Linked DNA regions of Homo sapiens: region 2 is linked to region 1. A link means that fine-mapping ties the variant in region 1 to the expression of a gene that starts in the linked region. Tissue or cell type: cerebellum. Region 1 holds a variant in brackets; the other region holds the start of a gene. All regions are shown on one strand. Distances are between the middles of the regions.

Region 1 (9,383 bases):
TAGGATGTAAGGTCTGTGTCTAGATTCATTTTTTTTGCATGTGGATGTCCAGTTGTTCCAGAACCATTTATTGAAAACACTGCCGGGCACAGTGGCTCATGCCTGTAATCCCAAAACTTTGGGAGGATGTGGCAGGAGGATCACTTGAGCCATCCTGGGTTCAAGGCCAGCCTGGGCAATTTGTGAGACCCCATCTCTACAAAAAATTTTAAAAATTACCCAGGCTTGGTGGTGTGCACCTCTGGTCCCAGCTACTTGGGAGACTAAGGTGAGAGAATCGCTTGAGCCCAGGAGATTGAGGCTGCAGTGAGTCGTGACTGTGCCACTAGACTGCAGCCTGGATGACAGAGTGAGACTCTGTCTCAAAAAAAAAAAAAAAAGAAAAGAAAAGAAAAGAACTCTCTCCATTGTATTGCCTTTGCTCCTTTGAAAAAGATCCATTAACTGTATCTATGCTTGTCTGTCTGGGCTGTCTATTCTGTTCCAGCTATCTGTTTTTCTGTTCTCTTAGCAATACCACACTTGTTTTTCTGTTCTTTTAGCGATATCACACTGCCTTATAGTGAGTCTCTAAATTGGGTAGTGTCAATCCTCTGACTTTCTCCTTCTCCTTCAATATTGTGTTGGCAGGCTGGGCACAGTGGCTCACACCTGTAATCCTAGCATTTTGGGAGGCTGAAGTGGGCAGATCACATGAGGCCAGGAGTTCAAGACCAGACTGGGCAACATGGCAAAACTCCATCTCTACAAAAATACAAAAATTAGCCAGACATGGTGGTGCGCACCTGTAGTCCCCGCTGCTTGGGAGGCTGAAGTGAGAGGTCACTTGAACCCAAGAGGTGGAGGTTGCAGTGAGCCGAGACTGCACCACTGCACTCCAACCTGGATGAGAGAGCCAGATCTTGTCTCAAAAAAAGCCAAAAAAAAAAAGAAAAAAAACTTCTTTGCAGTTAACACTCCCACCAACAATATATGAAAGTTCCAGTTGCTCCATATCTTTGCTAATATTTAGTGCTGTCAATCTTTTTCATTTGATGGTATTGCATTGTGGTTTTAATTGGCATTTCAATAATGGTTTCTAATTTTTAGCATCTTTTCATGTATTTATTTCCCTTTCATGTATGTTTCTTTGTGAAGTGTCCCTTCAAATATTTTGTCCAGTTTTTTAAGAAGCTGTTTTAATTAAATTAAATTAATTAATTAATTTAGAGACAGGGTCTCGCTCTGTCACCCAGGCTGGAGTGCAGTGGCACGATTATAGCTCACTGTAGCCTCGAACTCCTGGGCTTAAGCGATCCTCCTGTCTCAGCCTCCCAAGGAGCCAGGATCACAGGTGCATGCCACCACACCTGACTACTTTTTTAATATTTTGTAGAGGCAGGGGTCTCGCTATGTTGCCCAGGCTAGTCTTGAAGTCCTGTGCACAAGCAATCCTCCCACCTCAGCCTTCCAAAGTGCTAGGATCCAGGTTTTAATTGGGTTGTTTGTTTTTATAGAATTATAGGTATGGCATTCTTTATATATTCTGAATACAAGTCCTTTGTCAGATATCTATCTCTACACATTTTTTATTTTGAAGTAATTTTAGACTTCCAAAATATTGCAAAATGGTAGTAGGAATTCCCATAGTCCCTTTACCCATATTCCCCAAATGTTAATGTTTTATCCTATTTGCTTTATCATTTATTCTGTCTATAAATATGTACATACTTATATATGTGCACATATATACAAACATATTTTTTAATATGTTTGAGAGTAAATTGCAGACAGGATGCCCTTTTACCTCTAAATTCTTCAGAGTGTATTTCCTTTTTAAAATATGTATCCTAGCTGGGCATAGTGGTGTACATCTGTAGCCCCAGCTACTCAGGGGGCTGAGGCAGGAGGATGGCTTCAGTAGAGGAGTCCAGCCTGGGCAATATAGCAAGACCCTGTCTCTAAAAAAATGAAATAAAATAACAATTTTTTAAATAATTAAAAAGTACATTCTCTTCATAACAGCGATACAATTATGCACATCAGGAAACTAACATTAATATAATAGTATTTATCTAAACTTTGACCTTCTTCATATTTCACCAGCTGTCTCATCGGTGTTCTGTGGTACTATCTGGGATCACATGCTGCATTCAGTTATTATGTCTCTTTAGTCTCCTGTAATCTGGAACAGTTTTTCATATTTCTTTGTCCTTTACAACCTTGATATTTTTGAAGGGAATAGGCCAGCTGTTTTGCAGAATTTCCCTCGTTTTGTGTTTGTCTGATCTTTCTGCAGGATTAGATTGATGATATGCATTTTTTTTTTTTTTTTTTTTTTTTTTTTTGCCGGAATACCACAGAAGGGAGATTGGGTCTTTCTCAGTGCAGCCTGTCATGATGTATGTGATGTCCATTGGTCTCATTACCGGTGATGTTAATTTAGGTCACACGGTTAAAAGTGGAATCTGCCAGATTTCTCCACTGTGAAGTTCCTATTTTTCTCTTTCTAACTAATAGGCATCTATTAGACATATGTTTTGCAAATTTTTTTCAGTCTGTGGCTTGCTTATTTTTTCTTTTCTTTTTCTTTTTTTTTTTTTTTTTTTTGAGATGGAGTCTCACTCTGTCCCTCAGGCTGGAGTGCAGTGGTGCGATCTTGGCTCACTGAAACCTCCGCCTGCTGGGTTCTAGCAATTCTTCTCCCTCAGTCTTCCAAGTAGCTGGGATTTACAGGTGCCCACCACCACGTCCGGCTAATTTTTGTATTTTCGGTAGAGATGGGGTTTCACGATGTTGGTCAGGCTGGTCTCAAACTCCTGACCTCAGGTAATCCACCTGCTTTGGCCTCCCAAAGTGCTGGGGTTACAGGCGTGAGCCACCTCGCCCAGGCCACTTATTCTTTTCTTAACAGTATCTTTTGATGAGTGGAAGTTTTTTATTTTGTGGAAGTCTAAATTGACAAGTTTTTTTTTTTTTTTTTGGTAATTATTGCTTTCCCTGTCTTCTGTAAGATATATTTGCGTACCCTTAAATCACAAAGACATTTTCTTATGGTTTTCTCCAGATGTTTTACTGTCATAGTACTAAAACTGAATAGTTTTAGGTCTCTAATCCATCTCAAATTAATCTTTGTGAATGGTGTGGGGTAAGTGGTCAAAGTTCACTTTTTCCCCATATGTTAGTTTGATTTTTTTTTTTTTTTTGAGACAAGGTCTTATTCTGTTGCCTACATTGAAGTGCAGTGACACAATCACAGCTCACTTCAGCTTCGACCTCCCTGAGCTCAGGTGATCCTCCTGCCTCAGCCTCTGGAGTATCTGGGACCACAGGCACACGTCACCACACTTAACTAATTTTTATTTTTATTTTTGTAGAGACAGGGTCTCACTATGTTGCCCAGACTGGTCTCGAACTCCTAGGTTCAAGTGATCTTCTTGCCTCAGACTCCTAAAGTGCTGGGATTACAGGCATCTCCATGCCTGGTCTTTTCCCCGATATGGGTATTTAGTTGTTCCAGCACCATTGGTTGAAAAAACTTTCCTTTCCCCACTAGATTTCTTGTTACGTTTGTTGAAAATCAAATGATTGCAGTGTGGGTCTCTTTCTTAGTTCTCTGTTATCTTTCATTGATCTGATTACTCTTATGTCTAGGCCCAATTTTTACACAAGTTATATATTGGCCAGCTCAACATAACTTCTCTATGCCTCACTTTCCCCACTCACACAATGAATTATTATACCTATAAAATTCTGTGACTCTCGGCTGGGCGTGGTGGCTTCCAGCACTTTGGGAGGCCGAGGCGGGCAGATCCTCTGAGATCAGGAGTTCGAGACCAGCCTGGCCAACATGGAGAAACCCCATCTCTACTAAAAATACAGAAATTAGCCAGGTGTTGTGGTGGGTGCCTGTAATCCCAGCTACTCAGTAGGCCGAGGCAGGAGAATTGCTTGAACCCAGGAGGTAGAGGTTGCAGTGAGCCGAGATTGTGCCATTGCACTCCAGCCTGGGAAACAAGAGTGAAACTCCATCTCAAAAAAAAAAAAAAAAAAAAAAATTAAAAATTTCTTGATTCTCCTATCCAAGACCTCACAAAAAAAAAAAAAAAATCCCATGATTCTTGGTTCTTAATACTCAACCACTCTATTTGTGCCAATTATTTTTTATACTGATTTGATAGCTTGCTGGTTTTAAAACAAGTTTTATTAATGTGAGGATCTGCCTGAATTCCCTTTTCCCCATAACTCTGTTATCTTATCTCAGAAGAATGGCTCCCTTTTTTAATGTTGACTTGAGCTGGTAACCCACCCTGCTGTGTCCACC[C/T]GTTTCTCTGGCAGGAATGTTTTGTAAACAGAGAAACCTACCTAATGTTAGGACCGGCTATGACAGTTTAGTGTTCTGCAAATAGGGTCACCATATACTTTATCCGTTAAACTAGGGCAGATTTGTGATTGAAAGACGTTGTTATTATTATTATTTTGAGAGAGAGTCTTGCTCTGTCACCCAGCTGGAGTTCAGTGGCTCACTGCAACCTCCGCCTCCTGGATTCAAGTGACTCTCCTGTCTCAGCCTCCTGGGTAGCTGGGATTACAGGCATGTGCCACCATGCCCGGCTAATTTTTGTATTTTTAGTAGAGATGAAGTTTCACCATGTTGACCAGGTTGGTCTTGAACTCCTGACCTCAAGTGATCCATCCACCTCAGCCTCCCAAAGTGCAGGCATGAGCCACCACGCCCAGCTGAAAGGGGTTATTATTAATATTGTTTATAACTCTGCCAGGACAACAGGTATAAACCAGCCTGCCCTGGGATCGATGGTGGGCCTGTCAATAAACCTCTTAGAACTCAACCAAAATCATTCATTAACAGCCATTTTTCAAATACCTAAGTGCTAAGCACTGTTACAGGTGCTGGAGACTCTAAGACAAATAAACTGTAATTCTTGCTCTAAGGAGCTTTTAGTATAGCTGGGGAATCAAACAACAGACCATTACAATGGAGCTTTTCATTTCCATGGTAGGTGTTTGCACAGAGTTCCTTATGAAGCAAGCAGAAAACCAAGGATGATTGTAGGAGGTGGCAAATTGTAAGCTGAGGAAGGCTTTTGGGTACCAGATGAACAGTTGGGATAATAACAATAACAGTATTAGTAACAATAAGTTAGATTGGCATAGCCCTTTAAATTGCCAAGAATTAGGACGTTTGCACAGAAGAAAATAGAGAGCCCCACAGTTGGCAAAGCTAGAAGAAATGACAACAGAAATTCATAAAAGACCTGAGCAGCTCCTCCTGCAATTTCCACAGAGGCCAATCAACAGCTGCTCCTCAGGGCTGGGCTCTCCACCCACTCCTCTTTCTTCATTCCGCCTGGATGAGCTTATTTATCCACACCCAGGGCCTCAAAGGACAGCTCCTGGCTGATGCCTCTTGAATGTGCATGCTGGCCCTGGGCTTTCTGCTGACCAGGGGTCTGAACATTCCCCTGTTCACTGACGGGCCCCACGGCGCTCAGACACAACATGTCTGTTTGCATTTCTCCCCTGCCCCCATCTGCTCTCCTGTGTTCTCTATTTTACAGAACGACCTCTCTGTCCACCCTATTGCTTACATATCAAAACCTAGGAATTATCCTATAGATCTCCTTCCTAGCTCCATGACCTTCTGAATCTACCTTCTTTTATATCTCCTGAGCCTGTCCTCTCCCCTCTGTTCCCACTCTCACTTGGTGATGGCTCTTGTCACATCCAACCTGGATTATTGCTGCAGCCTCTTAATTCTTCTGCCTGTGGCCAATCTGATCCCATCCAGGCTGCCCTCCTTCCCACACCCAATGTGAGTTTCTTTAAAATGCACATCTAAGTAACTCACTCCCATGCTTAAAACCCTTCATTGACTCCCCTCATTAGCTTAGCAGCTAGGACCCTTGTCAGTCAGCACCATCCATGCCTGTCTGTCTGGCCTTGCTCCACACTCACATAGCTTTTAGTAGTCCAGCCATTCAAAACCACTTGTCCTTCCTCCTGGGTCAAGCTGTTCACACCTCCACACCACTGCACTTACTGTTCCCTTTCTCCTCGCACCCCCTCCTCCCTCCAGAATCCACTTGCACCTTCTGAAAAAGCCCTTTGGAAGCCACTCCTCTAAGTTTCAAGAACACACCTTTTCCGTAGCACATTTGAGTGTCCGTCTCTCTCTCCCATGAGCCCAGGGCTTGTCAACCCAGCACTATTGACATTTTGGGCTTAAACTTCCTTGTAGTGAGGACTTCCCTGTGCATTGCAGGATGTTTAGCAGGATCCCTGGCTTCTACCTACTACGTGCCAGTATGCCATTAGCAACCTCCCTCCAAAACATGTCTGTAGACATTGCCAAATGTCCCTGGAGAGTAAAATCATCCCAGTTGAAAACCACTGCACCAGACTGTGAGTTCCAATGAGACAGAAACCAAATCTTATTTGATTCACATCCCCAGTACTTCTCATGGCGCCTAACAGGCACTAGACATTCAATAAATTGTATGTCATGAGAGAAAGAGAGAAGAAATACAGTTCAATGGTACCACCTCTAGGGAAGGCTGTTTAGTGATATCTAAAAAAATCACTAATGAGTACACCCTTTGATCTACCAATTCTTCTTCTAGGAGTTTATTCTACAGCTAGACTCATACACAGGCAAAATGATAAATGTTCCAAGTTATTTATTTTACTATTTTATTTTATCTTGAGACGGAGTCTCGCTCTGTCGCCCAGTCTGGAGTGCAGTGGCGCCATCTTGGCTCACTACAAGCTCTGCCTCCCGGGTTCACGCCATTCTCCTGCCTCAGCCTCCCGAGTAGCTGGGACTACAGGCGCTCGCCACCGTGCCTGGCTAATTTTTTGTATTTTTAGTAGAGACGGAGTTTCACCGTGTTAGCCAGGGTGGGCTCGAACTCCTGACCTCGTGATCTACCCAGCTTGGCCTCCCGAAGTGCTGGGATTACAGACATGAGGCACCGTGCCCGGCCCCAAGTTATTTATTAAAGTGTTGTTTGAATAACAAAAATCTGGAAGCCTACTAGTCCATCAGAAGGAGACTTTTTTTCTTTTTTGAGACAGAGGCTTGCTCTGTCACCCAGGCTGGAGTGCAGTGGCGTGATCTCAGCTCACTGCAACCTCTGCCCAGAGGGGGACTTTAAACAAATCATGGTCTTTCATACAGTAGAATGCTATGCAACCATAAAATGGAATGAGAAACCCTCTATTTCTGATAAGGAAACCTCCAAGAAAAAAAAAATTTTTTTTTTTGAGACAGAGTTTTGCTCTTGTCGCCCAGGCTGGAGTGCAATGGTGCAATCTCGGCTTACCGCAACCTTCGCCTCCGGAGTTCAAGCAATTCTCCTGCCTCAGCCTCCTGAGTAGCTGGGATTACAGGCATGTGCCGCCATGCCCAGCTAATTTTTAATAGAGACGGGGTTTCACCATGTTGGCTAGGCTGGTCTCGAACTCCTGACCTCAGGTGATCCGCCTGCCTCAGCCTCCCAAAGTGCTGGGATTACAGGCATGAGCCATCACATCTGGCCCCAAGAAAATTTTAAAAGCAAAATGCAAAATGTTGTAAAGAGTATGCTACCATTTGTATGAGAGGGGACAAGATAAGAATATATATTTATACTTTTTTTTTGAGATAGAGCCTCCCTCTGTTGCCCAGGCTGGAGTGCAGTGGTGCAATCACAGGGCTCACTGCAACCTCTGACTCCCAGGTTCAAGTGAGTCTCCTGCCTCAGCCTCCCAAGTATCTGGGACTACAGGTGCCCGCCACCATGCCCGGCTAGTTTTTGTATTTTTAGTAGAGAGGGGTTTTGCCATGTTGCCCAGGCTGGTCTCGAACTCCTGAGCACAGACAGTCTGCCTGCCTTGGCCTTCCAAAGTGCTGAGATTACAGGTGTGAGCCACTGCACCTGGTGGTATATTTATACTTAATATGATTTGGATCTGCGTCCCTGCCCAAATCTCATGTGGAATTGTAATCCCCAATGTTGGAGGTGGGGCCTGTGAGAGGTGATTGGGTCTGTGGGGACAGATTTCCCCTTGGTGCTGTTCTCCTGATAGTGAGTGAGTTCTCGTGAGAGCTGAGATCTGGTTGTCTAAACATGTGTAGCATCTTCCCCATCTCTCTTGCTCCTGCTCCTGCCATGTAAGATGCCTGCCCCCGCTTAGCCTTCCGCCATGAGTAAAAGCTCCTTGAGGCCTCCCCAGAAGAGGAGGCTGCCATGCTTCACAGCCTGCCGAACCGTGAGGCAATTAAACCTTTTTTTTTTTTTTTTTAAGTTTTGGAGACAGGGTCTCACTCTGTCACCCAGGCTGGAATGCAATGGCGCGATCTCAGCTCACCGCGACCTCCATCTCCCAGGCTCAAGCGATTTTCCTGCCTCAGCCTCCCGAGTAGCTGGGATTACAGGCGTGAGCCACCACGCCCAGCTAATTTTTGTATTTTTAGTAAAGATGAGGTTTCACCATGTTGGCCAGGCTGGTCTCGAACTCCTGACCTCAAATGATCCACCCACCCCGGCTTCCCAAAGTGCTGGGTTTAGAAGGGTGAGCCACTGCGCCCAGTCAAACCTCTTTCTTTATGAATTACCCAGTCTCAGGTATTTCTGTACAGCAGTGTGAGAATGGCCTAATACAACTTGTTTGTATATGCATGAAGAAACTCAGGGGGGATATCTAAGGTACTAATAATAGCAGTTTTGTGTGTGCAAGTGTGCTGAGGCTCCAGATGCCATCTGGGCAACAAAAGGACAAAGGGTGGGAGGAAGACTTTTCACCATGCATCTGTGTATACCTTCTTTTTTTTTAAATTTTTAAATTTTATTCAGACAGTGTCTCACTATGTTGTCCAGGCTGGTCTTGAACTTCTGGGCTCAAGCAATCCTCCCACCTCTGCTTCCTAAAGTGCTAGAATTACAGGAGTGGGCCACTGCACACAGCCAATACAATCTGATTTTTAAATCTTACAAATGTATTGCCTATTTGAAGTAATTTTTTTATAAGAAAGGCAGAACATTGTAATGGAATTTACATATAATAAAGTATACAAAATTCTAACTAATAGTTAAGTCAGCAGATAGAATTTCATTACAATAATTATTACTACAAAGAAGAGTACATATTAAAATATAATAAAACCTTTTCCAAACCCATGCACATTCATGTCCCATGTGAAAATACTGAATTTATTTGGTTGTAATAAAGTTCGCTCTAAGAAAGTCTCTGTGCAACAAGTGTCTTGGCTAGTCTGATGTAATGGTCAGTAAGTTGCTCCTTTCTTCTTTATCAATTATACCTTCAAGTAGCCATTCCTCTCCACATTCCCCCAGTGTTTACTGGGAAGTTACTCGAGGACGCAGCAGCAGATTCTTTGAGAC
Region 2 (9,383 bases), 49 kb before region 1:
TTCCAGCTATACCTCAATCTCATCTGAAAAGCAAAAACATCTAACCTACAGAACAATTACACTGCGGGCATATTTAGGAATTTCTAAGTATGTTAACAGTGAATCACTTTTATCCCTGAGTGGAAGGATACAATGTTAACAGTTAACTTTTATCCCTGATTGGTGACCATGGGTGGTTTTAATTTTTACCTGTATTTTATGATAATTTTCACGTTTATATAATTTTTTTTTAGTATTTTTACAACTAGGAATTTTGAACTGAGATAAGGCATTACTATTATATACTTGGCAGGTTTCTTATCTAAAACTAAGAACCAAGTATTCGTTGACTCTTCTAAAGCAATCCTGTATATTCAAGGTTGATTAATAGAGTAAAAAGTTTTTTTATAATACAAAAATTAGCCGGGTGTGCTGGTACATGCCTGTAGTCCCAGCTACTCCGGAGGCTGAGGCGGGAGAATCACCTGAACCTGGGAAGTGGAGGTTGCAGTGAGCCGAGGTCGCGCCACTGTACTCCAGCCTGGGCAACAGAGTGAGACTCCGTCTCAGAAAAAACAAAAAATTTATTTAATACACACAAAAATAAAAATATCCACGTTTTGGGGACAGTTTTCTAAGTGGAAGGTCTTAATCTCTTGGAGAAGTGGGGCATGAATCCTGCCAGCCCTTCACCTGTCTTAGAGATTGCTTCACTTTAGATAAATGGAAGCCGAGTCCTTGAAGACTCTGCTTCCTCAATTTTCTATAAATCCATGAGTTCAGCCTGGTGAGATCTTTCCCACAGCTGAAAACTGGTTTCCTGAAATAACTGATACCCAACTTCTACTACTTGCTATTATTTATCATTTTTACCTTTTAAAGTTGCAGAAAATTAAGACTGTAGGGCCCTTCCACATGGCCTAACAGGTACGGCTCGGCATTTGAATTTTTTATCTTTTAATTAATTAATATATTTATTTTGAGACAGAGTCTCGCCCTGTCGCCCAGGCTGCAGTGCAATGGCACGATCTCGGCTCGCTGCCACCTCCGCCTACCGGGTTCAAGCGATCATCCTGCCTCAGCCTACGGATGTAACTGGGATTACAGGAGCGCGCCACCATGCCTGGCTAACTTTTTATATTTTTAGTAGAAACGGGGTTTCATCATGTTAGCCAGTCTCGTCTCGAACTCCTGACTTCAGGTGATCGACCCACCTCGGCCTCCCAAAGTGCTGGGATTACAGGGGTGAGCCACCGAGTCGAGAAAATACATTCTTAAATCTTAATTTTTAAATCTCACATATAATCATTCCCAATAAAATTCTAATTTTTGATAACTACTAAAAAGCGTAAGTTAAAATTTCCATTAGCCATATCAAAACATACCTGAGATGGATTAGACAAAAACTGCAGGTGAGAAAAGTCACTTTGTTATCCACTGACTGAACATCTCCAAATAAAAACGAGTGTGGATAGTTCTTAAAACCTGCATGTTTGAAGCCAAATATTCATTTCTGTTGCATGTATTTCAAACAGCATGTATTTTAGCCCCAAAAAAGTGTCATTTCCAAGAAACACTGGAGTCAAAAGAGAGGACAGTCATATCAAATAGCCTTGATTATTCACCATGTAAACTACAGTGATTTTTCATGTTATACATATAAATTTGACCTCTTTAATCAGTTTACATTTCCTTTAGGAATTAAACCAGCTAATTCTCAGAAACCACAAGTTTATTGCTTATAACAGAAGACAAGTTATTTACAGGTTACTCTAAATATGCTGCGAGTACTTAAGGCAAAATGAGTTACCTCTAGCTTTTCATCAACAAAATGGGAATACATGGATTTTGAGACATAAAGTTTTTCCAACAATATTTTTAGGATGGGTCTTTAAACTCTGAACTCATAATCCCAGCACCACCTCAACTTTATCTCGCAAGGAAGAAAAGGGACTAGGTGCAAGTTTACCAGCACCCAAGATGGCCCTGTCACAGGCGGCACCTCCCACCACAGCCACCATTTTGACTGCAGGATATAATTAAACTACTCACGATTTTGTACCAACTGAAAGAAAACACAGGACATCAGAGTAACTGAGAAACATCCTTTGACCTTTAGGATTCCCAACTCTTTAGCTTCCGTGTCTCTGTTTCTCTTCTTTCGTCAATATTAACAGTTGTCTAAAGAATATTTTCATTAATAAAATTATGCTTGCTACATTCACGTTCAAACTTTGAAAACAAACGCTGTGGCGCCACGTAAAATGCCCGTTATTACCTCTTCCTAAAAAGTGGAGAAGCCCACATTTCCTCACATTGTTTTAATCAGCTTAAGGAACTAAGAATCGCCAAAAGCCAGTGAGTGGCCCTAGACTATCTGTCTACATTCCTCTTCATTCTCCCATCCCCAACCCTTTTGATCTTTTTATTTTCCTGATTTCATTAACTGCGACGAGAGCAAGTTCCCACACTTCATTCACAGAAGAAGCAACTGATATTTCAGCAAACACGACTAAATCTAAAAATAAAGGTGAGGCAAAGAGCTCTGAAATAAACGAGTTAAAATCAACCCGAAAATGGCACAAAGTAAGATCCGTGGGGCTGGGGAGGCAACAACAACGATTTGCTCTTCCAAAAGAGTGGCTCTAATTTTGATTACTGCGTCGGCGAACCCATCCGCAGAACAGAAAACAAAAACTGACCAACGCAGTTGCCATTCACCTTTGTCCAAAGGCAAAAGGTGAAAAGTCACGACACATATTGCCATAGAAGAGAAGGCAATTCAACCTGCCAACCAATCGACTAATTCTCAGCTCCTTCCAAAAATAAAAATAAAAATAGGAGAAAGGGGGCTGCCGCTGGGCTGGCCGATGCCTGGCCGCCGAGTGCGCCGCGCTCCGCAAGCTCCCGCCACCCGCCGCGCTCCAGGACCCTCGGGTTTCGGCCCAGTTATCACAAAGCCCCGGGCTGGAAAACACCTCCGGCCTGGCCAGAATGGCCAGCCCGTCCTCCGCGCTCGCCCGGGGGGATAATGGTGGCGAGATCAACTCCAAGGGCTCCCGAGCCCCGCGATAAAGAGGCTGGATATTACGGGAGGAAGGACGCTGTGGAAGAATAACGGAGTCCCAAACTTTCCTTCCACACCTCCAGAGCCCCGCGCCCAGGCCCGGTCCCCACCGGCCCGAAGTTGGCCGGAGCGCCTCCCGGGAGCTTGGGGCCTCCGGGAGCCCCTGCCACGCGCCCGCCCGCCAGAGCGGGGCTAGCCCTCCCCGCCGGCCGCGGCCGACTCCCGCCCCGGTCCGAGTTAATCCCGCGCGGGCCCCCCCCCCGCGCCCGGCCCCGCCGGAGCAGCTGGCTCGCGCCTCAATGGCACCGGGCGGCGAGCGCGCGCAGCCCTCGCGCCCACACCCAGCCCCAGCCCACCGGAGAAGTCCCGGGAGGGTCGCCGGGTCCCGCTCCCGCTCCCTCTCCCACAAAAGCACGGGCCCGCCCCGCCCTCGCGGTGCCTGCTCCTCCACCCCAGGATCCGGCGTCCCCGGCCCGACGCCCCTCGGCACCCGGGCACAGCCCGGCGGCCCCCGCCCGCCCTCCTGCCCTTTTGCGCCCTCCTCCTGGCCCCCGACTCCCGGCCGAAGTCCCTCGGGCCCCGGCCCCTCTGCGCGACGGCCCGGGACACCCCGCGCGGGGCAGGGGGAGCAGGGGGCGCAGCGCGCCGCCTCCCGCCCGCGCGGCCACTCACCTCGATCTCGAAGTCGGGCAGGCGGAACGCGGTGCGAAAGAGCGAGCAGAAGTGCGCGATGGCCGGGACCTCCCACCAGGAGCGGAGCTCGCCCAGCCCGGCCGCGCCGCCCTCCTCTGGGCACATCTCCCCGCTGCGGCACAGGCGGCGGCCCCTCGCTGCCCGCGCTCTGCCCGCCGACCTGGGACTCCCGCCGCGGCAGCGCCGCAGCCTCCGCGCGGTCCTCGGCGGGGGCGGCGGGGCGCTCCTCCCGCTGCTGCCGCCGCTCGGCGAGTGCAGGAGCCGAGGGCGGGCGCCGGGCGGGGGGCGGCGGCGCGGGGGCCCGAACTACTGAGGCGGCTGCGGCTGCGGCTGCCCGCGGGGTCCGCGCGCTCGCCCCATCCCGCGGCTGCGGCGGCGGCCGCCCCCAGTCCCCTACAATATAATCGAGTCCCCGCCGGAGAAACAGATGGGGCTAGGGGCGGAGGGGCCGGACGCGGGGCCTGGGGGAGGGGCCGCCCACGAGGAGGGGGCGGGGCTGCCCGCGCCACAACAACAACCCCCGCCCCCGCCCCACCCCCGCCCGGACAGCTGCACCGCCAGGGAGGGGGAGGGGCGGGGCGCGCGCCCCCGGGCCCAGATCCGCAGGACCCAGGGGGCGCGGGCCGCACCCCCGAGAACTCTCACGAGGCGCCCTCCGCCCTCCAGGACTTTGGGACTGGGGAGTTGAAGCACTTTCCCAAGGGAGGACGGCCAGGAGCTCTCCCACCCCCACTTGGCCTGAGTGGTCGCGTCCTTTTAAAGGGCCCGCGGGGTGGTCCTTTCGGTCGGGCTAGAGACAGAAACGTGCACGTGTGGGAGTTCAGTTATTATTGATGCCGAGGGCAGAGCCGGAGCAGGAGCGGGCTGTCCACCCTAGAAATATGAAGCCTAGAGAAGTGAAGTGCTTTCCACCTGTTTCTTAACGCTTTTATTCCAGCCGAGAACGGCGCCCAAGGAGCTCTGAAGTGGCTTTTTTCTCCGAGGGAAGAAGGCGGTGGGGCTGATTGAGCTGGAACGAAGTAGGATGGAGGCTGGAGAGCGGCGGGAAGGGTGGGGTAGGGGGAGGCACCAATCAGCAGCCAAGCGGGAAGAGCGATCCCCAACCCCAGGGAATGGACACGTGTGACCGCCCCGGAGAAGACGGGCTCGGAACCCTGCTACTGCCCGGCCGCTGAAAGAGCTGCCTGGAAGAGTGAGCACAATGTGCTTGGAAGGCGGGGGGATGGGGCAGAGGAGATCGGGAAGCCGGGGACTGTGCTCGGAGGGGAGGAGACCCCCACGCCCCGGCGGAGGGATTGAATGTGCTACGGCCGAAGGGTGTTGGAGTGTGTGCTTTAGAAATGCTAACTGCTGTAGCGCGGTGGAGTACTGCTAAATCCTAAGAAAAAAAATCACCCCAGAAACAGGCTAGAAGTTTGGAAAAACTCCATTGAATGCTCAGATATTTGTATTGGTCGTCGCACTTGCATCCTGCTGGTCTCAGAGGGCCGCCTCTGAGTTCGGTGGTCCACCTTTCAGATAGGAAACACTGCTCCTGGTGCGTCCCCCAAATTAATCAACTATTTATTGAGTGACAGGCACAATCACAAAGTGTACAAGGGTTAAACTCAAAGATCCTCTTCTACCTTTAAGTAGTGTACAATCTGGAGATAATTTATATGATAGATTTTGGAATGGGCTGTCTGGATAATTACCCCTCCACTCTCCCTCACTTTATTATGATAATAACTTGTTGTATTTTTTAAGGCAGCATTCAGAAACATAATTTTAAATGGTTAGAGTATATTCACGTGCATCTTCTGTGAATCTAGTAATCTCAAAATACATCATCTTCTAACAAGGGTCTCCTCCGCCCCCCACCACTCTCTCCTGGCACAGAAAAACAACCCAAAGTTCTGCTCTTTCATTCCCTGGAACTATTTGATGATTTAAAGTGCATCCTCAAATTCTACCATGCTTTTTATTTAATGTTTGGCAAAAATGAGCTCACATGTGACTGCTCCCAAAAAGCCAAGCCTACGTTTGTGTGTGTTGGTGAAGCACAGCTACCCCGTGAGTATTGCATTAGCAAGGGAGATGGGAGAGGGACACAGGCCACCCCGGAATTGTCACGTAACCTGAACGAGGTGCTTTCTGGACTTGCTTCTCCGTCTTTTATTTCCTCACAGTTTGACTTTGCACACTTTTTCCTCTGTGTGAGTTGGCCGGGCGCGGTGGCTTACGCCTGTAATCCCAGCACTTTGGGAGGCCGAGGCGGGTGGTTCACCTTAGGTCAGGAGTTCGAGACCAGCCTGGCCAACATTGTGAAACCTCGTCTCTACTAAAAATACATAAAATTAGATGGGTGTGGTGGCAGGCGCCCGTAGTCCCAGCTACTCGGGAGACTGAGGCAGGAGAATCGCCTGAACTCGGGAGGCAGAGATTGCAATGAGCCGAGATCTCGCCATTGCACTCCAGCCTGAGCAGTAAGAGTGAGACTCCGTCTCAAAAAATAAAAATTAAAAAAAAAAAGTGTTACTGCGTTTCCCTGCCTTTATCTTTTGTCATCGTTTAAGCTTCTTCCCTCGCCTCTCAGTTGTCACCACTAGCCAGCCTAGTAATATTAGTGCCTAGGATATTAATGACACCAGCAAGCAGAGGGATGAGATGATTTGGCTACCTTTTAGTACGGTAGTGTGTTTAATGTCGTTTACAAACACCACCCCAGCCCCAATTTAAAGGCTGAGCCATTGTCTTCCTGCCTCCTCCGCCTACTGCCAAGCCCCGGAAATCAACAAGACTGTCCGGGAACGGCACGCGCCCCCTGGTGCTGCTCGGAGATCCGCCCTGTCTCTCAGGGCTCCTCCTCCCTTCTGCTGCCCTTTCCTTCTGAGGGTCTTCTCTGTTCTGTGGCCCAGCACACCAACTTTAGACCCATTTCCTCCCACCATTCTCTAACTCTGTTTGTCTCTACAGTTTTTTCCCTAGTTCCTCCACCTACCCTGCTACTCTGGCCTCAACTACCCTCTGGAACGGATCCTGGCCCCAGGAGCTGAGGGGTCTCAAGTGTCTTGGAATCAACAGTAAATCTCAATCTTGAGTTCCCCGAGTTTGGGCTCCAACCAGAGCTTTTCCATTTGGACCTTCTCTGGCCCTGTTAGGATTGATACCCTGAATCTTTGACCCTGCTTTGAACATCTGTGCCACGCCTCCCCTTGGACTTAACTGCCTCGGATCTATTTTCTGGACTAACTTCCAGCCTAACCTCCTAGAATCTAGATTAATGACCCCCTACCAATAGGCTGGCCACTCACCCTTCTTCCCTTCTCCCTTTGATTCGGAGTGCTATTGTACTTCTCCAGCCTGGCCCATTCTTTCACCCTCGAAACACTAGTTGAATCATCTTCCTTAAAAACACACAGTTTGCCGGGGCGGTAGGTGACGCCTGTAATCTCAGCACTTTGGGAGGCCCAGGCAGGCGGATCACGAGGTAAAGAGATCGAGACCATCCTAGCCAACATGGTGAAACTCCGTCTCTGCTAAAAATACAAAAAATTAGCTGGGCGTGGTGGCACGCCCCTGTACTCCCAGCTACTCGGAGGCTGAGGCAGGATGATTGGTTGAACCCGGGAGGCAGAGGTTGCAGTGAGCGGAGATCGTGCCACTGTACTCCAGCCTAGCGACAGAGTGAGACTCAATCTCAAAAAAAGAAAAAAGAAAAAACACAGCTCATATTTTCTTTCCCCTTCTCATTCGTGCTGTTTTCTGTTTGTGAGCCAGTGCCATTAACTTCAGATAGTATTAAAAGTAGCAAGAAGTAATTCTTTCATATTCTCTGACCCTGAGTTCCATAATCCCCTTTGAATCAAATGTTTTCTATTTAAAAATCCCACAATAATTCGTTTGGTTTTTCTGTTTTGCTTATTCATTAATATTGCAAAAATATTTATGTTTCCCATTGCAAAATATGAAGTAATGTTAGCTATGTTGGGATTTATATAGGTTCCTGGAGGATAATCTGGGAAATGAACCACCCTTTTTTTTTTTTTACATAGGGGGTCTCCCTTTGTTGTCCAGGCTGCAGTGGAGTGGTGCAGTCATAGCTCACTGCCACCTTACTGAGCAATCCTCCTGCCTCAGCCTCCCAGATAGCTGGCACTACAGGCCAGGCTAACCACATTTTTTTGTTTGTTTTTGTTTGTTTGTTTGTTTTTCCGAGACAGTCTTGATCTGTCACCCAGGCTGGAGTGCAGTGGTGCCATCTTGGCTCACTGCAAGCTCCGCCTCCCCGGTTCACACCATTTTCCTGCCTCAGCCTCCCGAGTAGCTGGGTGTACAGGCACCCACCACCACGCCTGGCTGATTTTTTTTGTATTTTTAGTAGAGACGGGGTTTCACCGTGTTAGCCAGGCTGGTCTCGATCTCCTGACCTCGTGATCCGCCCACCTTGGCCTCCCAAAGTACTAGGATTACAGGCGTGAGCCACTGAGTCTGGCCTAACCACCTTTTTTATGACATTGTTTCTTTGGGAAATACACTGTTATTTCCAAAGGATTAATTTAAAAATGTGTGCTCTGCTTTATTATTACTGAACCTTGGAAGAGATGAACAAAGGAAAGTGTGGCTTCTTCATAACCGTCGTTAACCAGGACAAGCATCCAAATCTTTTTCTTTTTCCTTTTTTTTAGACAGAGTTTCACTCTTGTTGCCCAGGCTGGAGTGCAGTGGCATGATCTTGGCTCACTGCAACCTCTGCCTCCTGGGTTCAAGCAATTCTCCTGCCTCAGCCTCCCGAGTAGCTAGGTTTACAGGCACGCACCACCACGCCTGGCTAGTTTTGTATTTTTAGTAGAGATAGGGTTTCTTCATGTTGGTCAGGTTGGTCTCAAACTCCCGACCTCAGGTGATCCACCTGCCTCAGCCTCCCAGAGTGCTGGGATTATAGGCGTGAGCCACTGCGCCCAGCCAAGCATCCAAATCTAACTGTTCAGCCAGTTTTCTCTCTTTGGAATCATGCTACTTCTCTCTTCTTCTTCTTCTTATTTTTTGTTTTTTTGTTTGTTTGTTTTGTTTTTTGTTTTTTGAGACGGAATCTCCCTCTGTTGCCGAGGCTGGAGTGCAGTGGTGTGATCTCAGCTCACTGCAACCTCTGCCTTCTGCGTTCAGGCGGTTCTCCTGTCTCAGCCTATAGGTGCGTGGCACCACTCCCAGCTAATTTTTGTATTTTTAGTAGAGATGGCGTTTCACCATATTGGCCAGGCTGGTCTGGAACTCCGAACCTTGTGATCCACCCACCTCGGCCTCCCAAAGTGCTGGGATCACAGCACTTTGTAATCCCAAAGTGAGCAGGGTTACAAGGCGTGAGCCACTGTGCGCTGCCTCTCTCTTCTATTTAAATTGCCCTTTCTCTACCTTTGTTTGCCAACCTGACCTGGATACTTCTTGTTTCAGTGCCAGAATCAAATTGGACCAGGAGAGTGTAGTATAAACATTATGTTAGCACTTTAGTCAACTGTGTATAACTAAGCCCAAGTATGGCACAAATTCTTTTTTTTTTTTTTTTTTTTGAGACAGAGTCTTGCTCTGTCGTCCAGGCTAGAGAGCAGTGGCGTGATCTCAGCTCACTGCAAGCTCCGCCTCCCAGGTTCACGCCATTCTCCTGCCT

The links.
Region 2: it holds the start of CECR2, and the variant in region 1 is fine-mapped to the expression of CECR2 in cerebellum (GTEx, PIP 0.97).

What each region holds. Positions count from the first base shown.
Region 1 is chr22:17,315,722-17,325,104 of GRCh38, reverse strand. No RefSeq gene overlaps it. Among named protein-coding and RNA genes, the nearest start is that of CECR2, 49 kb to the left of the region's middle. The variant C/T (reference allele first, on the strand shown) is at 4,304.
Region 2 is chr22:17,364,245-17,373,627 of GRCh38, reverse strand. CECR2 (CECR2 histone acetyl-lysine reader) reads right to left here and starts at 4,168. Exons shown (of 19, transcript NM_001290047.2): 1 at 3,719-4,168. The coding sequence starts at 3,844. RefSeq lists silencers at 3,731-3,830, 3,841-3,910.